Linked DNA regions of Homo sapiens: region 1 is linked to region 2. Evidence: fine-mapped expression QTL. A gene starts in region 2. The other region holds a variant in brackets. All regions are shown on one strand. Distances are from middle to middle.

The links. PIP is the estimated chance that this variant, and not a neighbour inherited with it, causes the effect. A credible set is the group of variants that fine-mapping cannot tell apart.
Region 1: its variant is the best candidate, but not a certain one, in a credible set for the expression of SQLE in blood mononuclear cells (TOPMed, PIP 0.74).

What each region holds. Positions count from the first base shown.
Region 1 is chr8:125,069,950-125,075,329 of GRCh38, reverse strand. It overlaps WASHC5 (WASH complex subunit 5), which reads left to right. Exons shown (of 29, transcript NM_014846.4): 8 at 219-332; 9 at 2,006-2,177. Among named protein-coding and RNA genes, the nearest start is that of WASHC5, 19 kb to the left of the region's middle. The variant C/T (reference allele first, on the strand shown) is at 2,549.
Region 2 is chr8:124,995,420-125,000,799 of GRCh38, reverse strand. SQLE (squalene epoxidase) reads right to left here and starts at 2,295. Exons shown (of 11, transcript NM_003129.4): 1 at 1,106-2,295. The coding sequence starts at 1,396. It overlaps SQLE-DT (SQLE divergent transcript), which reads left to right and starts at 2,602. Exons shown (of 2, transcript NR_134457.1): 1 at 2,602-2,837; 2 at 3,640-3,812. RefSeq lists enhancers at 1,935-1,984, 2,915-2,974 and a silencer at 2,195-2,694.

The sequences.
Region 1 (5,380 bases), 75 kb before region 2:
AGGTGTAAAGAGATCTTTATACCTATTAACGTGAATTAACAATCAGGAACACTTACTTAACAATCAGGAACACTTACCTATATATTTGGAAAATCTTGGTTTTTCATTGGAATGGAATTTAAACATGGAGTGGGTATTGCCTTCTATAACTTTAGTATTCAACCCTTTGCCTTGAAGTGAGTAGGAATTTAACAAATTCTGAATGTCTCCTCTTTCAGGTAATTAGTATTTACATGGGGATCACAGTTAATCTAGTAGATGCTTGGGAACCTTACAAAGCTGCAAAAACTGCTTTAAATAATACCCTGGACCTTTCAAATGTCAGAGAACAGGTAGGTTCTAATCTGGGGACATTCTCTGATAACTGCAGGCCTAGTTTATGAAGTAGCAAATAAGCTAAGTAGATTTCCCAAGGAATTTGGAAGATAATCACTTAGATAATTTAATGCAATGATTAATAAAAGGTGAATTTTATAGGTTAGAATAAGATAGGTAATTGTAGGTTTTGTTATATAGTATATGTAAATTGAAGATTAGGATCCCAAGGAAGAGTCAGTACCCTAAGACAAAGAAGCATGGCATATGCCCCAAATGACTTAGTTTACTTTTGCTTAAAGACTATATTCTCATGGCCAGAGTTGGTTGTACCAATAGCTGGAATTAATATGTTTTTATAAGTAGGATGAATGATGAAGATGATAACTGAATATGGATAATATGTCCTGTCACTGTAATTTAAATTTATCATTTGTGTTGTGCTAAATAAGCAACAAGACTCAAGACATTCATCTTAAAGGTTAAACGGTTATATTCTATCTCTTTTGTTCTTACACAAGGCAGAAGGGAACATCCAAGTAAGTAGAGGAATAAAGATAAAATCTTGGGGAGCATACTTGATATTTCTAAATGGTTATGTTCCTCATCCTGGCTCAGTTACTGAGTTTCCTGTGTGGATAAAACAATATTGACTCAAAAAACTTCATCATGTTTTATTCAAGTAAATTGAATTCCATAAATAATGCACAAAATAATTTCAATGTTGGCACATCTCCTAGAAATATATTAGAGAAAGTGGCACTTTTATACTTAGCAACATCAGATCATTAATTTTTCATTGCTAAAATCCCTTTCTAAAATTGCATTTTCTCATTTGTGACATTTTTAAGAGGTTTCTTGATACCACAGATTTCAACTAACTTGATGAGGTTAATGATGTTTAACATTTGACTTCCTTTAAGTAAAGCAGAATGACCAAATTTTCCAAAAAGCTGGTTTGGAAATTCATTTTTGATATACTAAGGTGTATTTTTTGCTAAGCTTTCATAAGCCTGTAGAAGAAGTCTTATATTTTAAGTGTTTCTGCTCTGTTCTGCCTTCTTTGTCAACAGTATTAGCAAGAACAAGCAATTGAACTTCTGTCTTTATTTTCTTTTTCATCTAAGTTAATAATAGAAGAGTTCTGAGGAACCACCTGGTCCAAGTCTCCGTTTGAAATTTGAAGAAACCAATACACAGGGGTTAAGCCCCAAGTCACACCAAAGTTTAATCACAGCCAGAACTAGGATGTAGTCTCAGAATTCTAAGTCCAGTGCTTTTTTCAAATATGTTCAATAAGCCAGTTGTCTTTGAGCCCAATAAGTATAGTCCATATGTTATTCATCTTATATAGAAATGTTATCTTTGAGCCCTAGAACTATAGTCCATATGTCATTCATCTTATATAGAAATTACATAAAAATGTTAATGTTTGAGCCCTATAACTGTAGTCCATATGTCATTCATCTTGTACAGAAATTATATAAAAATGTTAAAGTTTGAGCCCTATAACTGTAGTCCATATGTCATTCATCTTATAGAAATGTTATCTTCGAGCCCTATAACTGTAATCCATATGTCATTCATCCTATATAGAAATGTTACTATTTGTCAGTGAATTCATTTGAATGTGATTTATTTTCAAGATAAATGACTTTTTAAATGTAATTCAAGTTTCTTATTTGTCAAGGCAAGCAGATATGCTACTGTCAGTGAAAGAGTGCATGCTCAAGTGCAGCAATTTCTAAAAGAAGGTTATTTAAGGGAGGAGATGGTTCTGGACAATATCCCAAAGCTTCTGAACTGCCTGAGAGACTGCAATGTTGCCATCCGATGGCTGATGCTTCATACAGCAGACTCAGGTAATGCACAAAAGGGGTGGCCGTTTATATTACTCCACATAAAGACTCTCAGAATCAGGACCTACTTCACGATGCAGAGTGGTTTAGCAGGGAGAGAGGCCTTGGATGAGAATCAAGTTGCTTTTTAAAGTTAGTCATTTTTTGTCAACTTGGATAGGCCACTAGCATACCTGAAAAGCTCTCCCCTGTCAGGTACTGTTAGGTGCTAGGGAATAAGAGGATGTTTATCTCTCATGTTCAAGGAGCTTGTCACTGATCAGAATGGGGAGATCAAATGTAGACATATGAAAAAATAGAACTGCAGATCTGTGGTAGGCAGAATAGTGCCTTCCAGCCCACACCCAGAGATGTTCATGCCCTAGTCCCTGAAC[C/T]GGTAGATATATTACATGAAAAAGGGGGATTGAGGTTGCCTATTAGCTGACCTTTAAGGAGATGTTTCTGGATTATCCCAGTGGACTCAGTGTAATCATAAGGGTCCTTGCTGTGTGTGGTGGCTCATACTTGTAATCCCATCACTTTGGGAGGCCAAGGCAGGAGGAGAGCTTGAGCCCAGGAGTTCAGAACCAGCCTGGGTAACACAGTGAGATCCCATCTCTACAAAAAGTAAAAAAATTAGCTGGGCATGGTGGCACACACCTGTAGTCCCAGCTACTGGGGAGGCTGAGGTGGGAAGATCACTTGAGCCTGGGAGGTTGCAGCTGCAGTGAGCCAAGATCATGCTACTGCACTGCAGCCTAAGTGACAGAGCAAGACCACGTCTCAAAAAAGAATAATAAAATAAGAGCCCGCCCCCCCCCCCCACTTTTTTTTTTTTTTTAAGACAGGATCTCAAGTTCCCCAGGTTTGAGTGCAGTGGCACAATCTCAGCTCACTCAGACCTCCTGGGCTCAAGCGATACAACTTCCGCAATCCCCGCAAGCAGCTGGGACTACAGGTGTGTGCCATCATGCCTGGCTAAGTTTTTTGTATTTTTTTGTAGAGACAGTGTTTCACTGTGTTGGCCAGGGTGGTCTCAAACTCCTGAGCCCAAGCAGTCTGCCCACCTCGGCCTCCCAAAGTGCTAGGATTATAGGTCTGAGCCACCATGCCCAGCCTGTAAATATAGGGGTCCTTAAATCAGGAAGAGGGAGGTAGAAGTGTCAGAACCAGAGAGATAGCATTGTGACAAAAACCTGACTGGCCATTGCTGGCTTTAAAGATGGAGGGGGCCACAAGCCAAGGAATACAGGCAGCCTTTAGCTGCTGAAAACAAGAAAACAGACTTTTCCCCTAGAATGTCCAGAAGGAGCCCAGCGCAGCCATCACCTTGATTTTAGCCCAGTGAGCCCCATCTCAGATTTGTCACTTCTGGGATGGTGAGAGAATAAATTTGTGTTGTTTTAAGCCACTGAGTTTGTGGTAATTGTTAAAGCAGCAGCGGGAAACTAATTCAAGGTCCAAGGCAGTAAACAGACACCAGGTGTGTCAAACAGACAGTTGGTGTGATTTGAGTTCAGAGTAGAGAGGGAAACATTGCTTGGGATAGGGGAGCAGAGGAGGTCAGGAAACCCCATACAGGAATCAGGAGCCAACCAGGCGTGTGATGAGGTTTTGAAGCAAAAAGCAGAAGAAATTCTAGACTACAGAAATGATGGAATAAGTGATACGATTTTGAAAGTACAGAAAAACATATGGGCCCACTGAGTTGATGACCTGGCTGGACCAGAGTGCTTATTTAAGGTAGATTGGATCTTAGCTTTTTATGAGTCATGGTCTCCTCCGAGACCTTCTGTTCACACAGTTTGACCATCAAGTTCAGATTGTGAGAAATGCTTCAACCTCTGGTTTAATGGTAGAAAAATAAGTAAGTTGAATTAACATCTCTGAGCTTGTTCAGGGCTGGCACAGTTTCTTATTCTTCGTAAATGCTGGATCAACACTAATTAACCAATGCATTCCCTCATCCAGGACTGTATACCCCTACCCCTAAGAGGTGTGTCATTCAGCAGGCCTGTGAAGCCCTCTGCTTTTTGTTTTTCACTCAACAAACTTTCCTTGAGGACCAACTCTGAGACAGGCACTGTGTGCAGCACTTCTTTGTTCTTCCAGATAAGACTGTGTCTCTTTAAAAAACTGTGCACACAAGACTTCTCTGTAGCCTTCCTTTGTAACATGGTAGCCCCTGTCTCACAGCTCTTCCAGCCAAGATGACTTCACAGTCCTTCTAGCTACCGTCTGCTTCCACTTCCTATGGGTGGTCCACAGTGAAAACAGCAGTTGGACTTCCTCATCCTTCGTATCTTTGAAAATGTGTGGAGTTTCCCCTCAGCCTTCTCTCCAGCTTCTTAAACCTTTATCCTGAGAGCTGCTTTCCAGTTTGTTTCATCATCTTGTTTGTTGGCCTATATCCATTTACAATTTACCCACAGTATGAACACGATGGCTGAAGTTTTTAATCCCTGAATCTGTTTTTAATTAGTTGAGTTTATTTTTTACATAAACTCCAGTTCTAATTTGAGGATTTTACTACATTGACTCAGCTTTTAATCTTCTTTACCAAAAGTCTTGCATTCACAAGCGTATAAACAACTCAAGCCCTCACTTTATCCTGTCATAAAACCAACTGGGGTTTTCTAGTGACTCAGCCTCATCTTCATCTTCTGTGTGACTCTGCCTGACGGCCCTGTCTATGTTCGGAAAGCCGGCAGTCTCCTGAATTCGCACCCATGCCAGGGACAACCTTGGCTTGCCAGAGGTCTGTGGTTTTATCTTCAGCCACATTTGTCTTTTGCGTTTGTGCCTGGCAATTGTCTGACCTGATTGCACAGGGTCGTAATTTATCAGAAACAAATGATTGACCTATCTGATTGTGAGTCACACATGGGAAAAGCAACTGCTTAGTTAACTTTTGTGGAATTTCAGTCATGGTGTTCAGAAAAGCAGGCCTAGTCTCATTGCCTCCTGTTGAGTTGCTGGAGGCATTTCCCAGTCTTAGGATGCTTGTACAGAACCTTGTAAAGAAATATTCTCTGAGGAAATAAGGGATGAGAAAGGCTGGCTGGCTACTGAAGTTTGACCCCAAAGTTCTGATGGCTCTGCAGTTCTCTGGGTATGAATCCTTAAGGGTCAGATCTGAGAGAGATGGTCAGGCCCTGGGAACCCCAGAAGCAAACCTGGTTTATACCAAGAAGCTAAATGTTAAAGCACATTGAGGAATACAGAGT
Region 2 (5,380 bases):
TTCTCCATACAGCAACTGCAATGTTCTTTTTAAAAGGTAAAAGTCAGGCCAGGCGCCGTGGCTCACGTCTGTAATCTCAGCACTTTGGGAGGCTGAGGCAGGCGGATCACTTAAGGTCAGGAGTTCGAGACCAGCCTGGCCAACATGGTGAAACCCTGTCTCCACAAAAATACAAAAAAAAAAAATTAGCCAGGAGTGGTGGCGTGCACCTGTAATCCCAGCTCCTTGGGAAGCTGAGTGAGGCACGAGAATCGCTTGAACCAGGGAGGCGGAGGTTGCAGTGAGCCGAGATCACGCCACTGCATTCCAGCCCGGGCGACAGAGCGAGACTTTGTCTCAAAAAACAAAAATTTTTTAAAAAGTAAACACCGAATAAAGTTACTCCCATACTTAAAATCCTCCAGTGTTCTTGGGAGAACTCTTGGGAAAAAGCCCGAACACTCATTGCCAACATGCCCTAAATGATCTGGCCTAAACTCTTCCCCCTCATCTTCTCCCAGTGGCCGCCTCTGCTCCCTTTGCAGGAATCCCAACTACACCCTTATTTGAAGACCTGGCCTTTATGTTAGGACATTACTACAAGCATTTACTCAATGCTCCAATATTCGGGGGAGGAGAACTTTGAGCCCAATGCCTCAAAATGTTGAGCATTCTCCTTCTGCCTGCTTTTCAAACTGTTCTGTCACTTTCCCCAGTCAGCTGTCACTTCTTACAAGCAGTGGACTTACCCGCAGCACGTTTCTTTCTTCCTCAGGCACAAATCCAATCCTTACCCAAGAACTTTTTAAAAACTTTTTCATCATGGAAAGTGGTTGTTCTTCTCCTTCAAAATGAAATTCTAACATTTCGTTCCATCTTTCATAATCAAATATCCAACCTCCATCTGAGGCTCAACCAATGCTAAATGAAACAAATGTCTTCACTCATTCTTAAGAAGGTCAAAGATGTAACCAAGGCACAGCAGAGTTTAAAATAAAAAATACATGAGAATGTATACAAGCATCTAACCTGCCGCCTTTTGCAATTCAAATAAAACTTATATTTGAGTGAACCCAATCCTACTCCTAAATAAGACATTCATCTGCCCGCTTTGAAATCAACCTACCCTCCTGGCCTCGAGCTGCTCCTTATTTTCTGATTCAGGGGGGGATTTGGCCCAGAAGAAGCCAATGAAAGGCAGGCCTGAGAGAATATCCGAGAAGAGGGCGAACTGGGAGCCGCTCTGCTGGCGCCCGAGGAGACCCCCGTTTCGGTGGCGACAGCGGTAGGAGAGCACCAGGCCCAGCGAGAGGAACACCAGCACGCACAACAGGACCTCCCTGTTGGCCAAAGTGATGAAGTCCCCGAACTTCTTATAAAAATAGGTGAAAGTGGCAATGCCCAGAAAAGTCCACATGGTTCCAAGGCTTCTTTGGTGGCACCGGTCAAGGCGGAGATTATCTGCTCGAGTGGGTTTAAGGTTCTCCCCAAAATGAGGTACCAAGAGGAGCACGGAGAGCCGGCCAGACTCCAGTAAACAGTGTCCCAGGACGAGAAGTCCGATCAGACCAGTTTTTAAAAATCATATAAAGTTAGTGTAAAAGTATGTGAAGCCAAGTTGTATAGGGCGTAGAAAGCAGTATTTAAAAATCGCCTGCTGGAACAGCTCCCGAGCAGACTCGCTCCTCCTCGCCCAGGAAATCCAGATATTCCCTTTTTTTCTTTTTTGATGGTGTTCCCTGAGCGGTTGCTGCGGGTGATGGATACTCTTCTGATACTGGCTCTTCGTGCTATAATTTCTTTTCTCACCAAGAGCAGGTGCCCTTTCAGAAGGGAATGGGAGTGGAGGGAGGGTCACAGAAACACCTCGGCACTGGGGGAAACGTGGCCTAGCCTCTGGCGACGGCGAGCAGCGGCCGGAAGGCACGGGGGCTGCGGGCCGGCGCGGGTTCAGAGGCTTCTTTTTCCGCGGACGGAGACACTGTACAGCCCAACCTCGGGAAAACGCCAACGCCGACGCCTTCTCCAACAAAAGATGGCCTCGGACTCAAGAGTGCGGCTCCAGGGCAATGCAGCCCCAACCTAAAGATTTAGAGGCCTCCCGTTTCGCTGGCCCCCAGAGCCGCCCACCGCGACTGCACTTCCCCACCGATAAAAGGTGGTTTCCAGGGTACCTCCCTCAGATGGCGGCGGCGGCTCCCGACGGCTTCCTCACCAGCATCCCTCGCGGGCGGCGGCTCTCGCCAGCGCGGCGCGGCCCCAGTAACCAGAGTAACCGTCGCACGCCCCCACTCGCCGCCAGGCTCCACGCGTCTCAGCCAGCTGGGCGGGCTCGGCCCAGACGAGGGACCGGGGGCGGGGCTCAGGCGCGAGTCCGCCCATACCGCGCGCCCCGCGTGCTGCCCCGCCCCCTACCCCTGCTCCTGCCGCCGCCGGCCAATGAGGGCGCGCACCGCGCGGTAGGCCGAGATGGCGCTATGCCGCGTTTGGCCAATCGGAGGCGGCGCAACCTGCGCGGCGACGCCCCGAAAGGCGCTAGGGCGATGTTGCGTGGTGCGGGTTGGGGCGTGGGGATGGGCGCGGGCCGGCTCCGGCGTGGGTGGGGCCAGGGGTCGCCTAGGAGGCGCTCTGGGGCCGGGATCGGCGTCGGGGTCGGGGTTGGGGTTGGTTCACCGCAGCAGCCCCAGCTCCTGCGCCCTCCCTGGACTGAGGTGTGCTCGCTTTGAGGAGAAGCCTGGAGTGATCCGCTGCCTCGGGTCGGAACGTTTCCATTCATTCCGCTAGCATTTATTGAGCGCTTATGATATGTCAGTCCCCGGAGTCCGAAAGAGGAATCAGACACAGCTTCCCTGCCCTGTGTATGTGGAGAGGGCGGAAGGGAGGGCCATGAGTGCGTGGAGAGCCTGACATTCCAGCTGAAGCTGGAAGAATGAGTAGGCTTTTGCCTTAAGAAGAAAAGGAGAGGACGCTCCAGGTGCTCAGGCTAGAGATACACGGATGCGCCCAGCCCGTTCTCTCAAGACCAGAAACGTTGGGGGTGGGGGCTCGGAGGCAAAGAAGTCAAATAGTCGTGTCATAGGTGTCCTGAGAAGGGGGTGGTTAGAGAGGGAGCCATGGAAACCCAAGAGGTGGTCCTTCCCTTGGCCTGGAGAAGTCTGGTGAGGCGCCCAGGGGGAGGTTACACGGTGTCCAGGACAAGCAGTCCGAGGGAGCAAAAGTGTGCAAAAGTCTCGGAGTGAGACAGCCCTTATTCTACTACGATGAAACTTACCTAAAATTTATTGAGGCTTAAGACCTCAGTGTCTTTGCTCATCCTGTTTCTTAACTCTGGACTTCCTTCTTTAACCCCTATGATAATAGGTGCAAATCCCTTCTGCCTTTTGGAGCGTGGCTGCATTGTCACCTCTTCCACCAAATCGCCATTGACCTTCACCAAGTCACATAACTTTATTCATACTTTTTAATCTCTAGATTCCCTAAAGATCTGTGTCTGATAAGATCACCCACAGCACCTAGCACAATGCTCTGCCCTTAATTTATCCTCCATAACATGTATTTAATGAATGATGAACGACACTGGCGCATAAAAGCAAGACTAGGCAACTAGAGTTAGGAGACCCAGATTCTGGCTACCGCTAACCAGACTGTGACCTTTTACAGATGTTACAAGTCACTCTGCCTCTGTGGGGAGAAGGCAACTTCTTCATGAACTCGAACATCCTTTGCAATTCTGTATCAGATACTTGGCAGGGTTTAAAAAAACATGGCACCTCTTATAACTTTTCACCCCCAATATTATGTTTTATCTGCTAATAAAATAATTATTTGGTAAAACACCCGCACAGGCGTTCACTTGACCCTCAAAACAACTTTGATTTTTAAAATGAGGAAAATGAAAATTAAAGAGGTTAAATGGCTTGACTAAATCACAGCTGTGATTAAATCGTAATGATGAAACCAAAAGTCAAAGTCCTGGTCTCCAAATCTTGTGGTTCCCCAGTATGCATAATTATCAATAACTGCCTTGCTTTCCAATACTTTTATTCTTTCTTCTACAATATTCCTCACTGTTACCAGTAAGTTTGGCTGTCTGAACTGACATCAAATTTAAAAGGACTGCAGAAAAGAGAATCAGTTCAATGTATGGGAAATCATTTCCTGAAGAGAATTCTTCAATAAACTGCTTATTGGTATCTGTGAGTTCTGTTTTGTTAAAATAATAGAGGAGCAGCTGACTCTTTTATTATTTTTAAATTTTTGTGACAGAGTCTCGCTCTGTGGCCCAGGCTGGAGTGCAGTGGCGCAATCTCAGCTCACTGCAACCTCTGCCTCCTAGCTTCAAGCGATTCTCAAGCCTCAGCCTCCCGGGTAGCTGGGACTAGAGGCACGTGCCACCATGCCGGCTAATTTTTGTATTTTTAGTAGAGACAGTGTTTCACCATGTTGGCGAGGCTGGTCTCAAACTCCTGACCTCAAGTGATCCTCCCGCCTGAGCCTTCCAAAGTGCTAGGATTACAGGCATGAACCACCAAGCCCGGCCAACTGACTCTTACAGATGGGAATACAGTTATCACCAGGATGGCTGTTACCTGCTAACTCTGTACTCAAGATTATCATAAAAGGAATTTTTCTTATTAAGTAGATAATTTTTTAATCTCTGGAAAGCGACTTTCTTCATATGTTTTTATCTTCACAAAGTCATTCTTACAATGTCAGGTCTGAATCCTTTAGGCAGTTCAAGATCCACTTCTGAATTTGGGGCAAAAAGAGCACTTGTAATACCTACCGCAGAGCACACTCTGAATGCCTATATCTTCTGAACTGAATTAAATGTTATATAAGCATTGCTTAAGTATTTTTGAATCTTGCCATGGTTCATTTATTCAAAAACAAATCTGTCATTGAGACCTGAAGGGAAAGCAATGAAATGTGAGACAAAATCAGCTGCTTACTGGCAGAAAGCCATAATGCTATCAAGTAGGTACATGAGAAATACTTTCGTACAAGAGCTCACACATATAGTACGGGTAGCATTCTAAATACTTTTCATATATTAGCTCGTTTTGGCTTCCTGACAACACTTTTAGGGAGATACTACTTTTTTTTTTTTTTTTTTTTTTTGGAGATGGAGTCTCGCTCTTTCACCCAGGCTGGAATGCCGTGGCCTGATCTCGGCTCACTGCAACCTCCGCCTCCCGGGGATCAAGCGATTCTCCTGCCTCAGCCTCCCGAGTAGCTGGGACTACAGGCGCAGGCTGCTACGCCCGGCTAATTTTTGTATTTTAGTAGAGATGGGGTTTCACTGTGTTGGCCAGGCTGGTCTCCAACTCCTGAGCTGAGGCAATCCGCCCGCCTCGGCCTCCCCAAGTGCCAGGATTACAGGCGTGAGCCACCACACCCA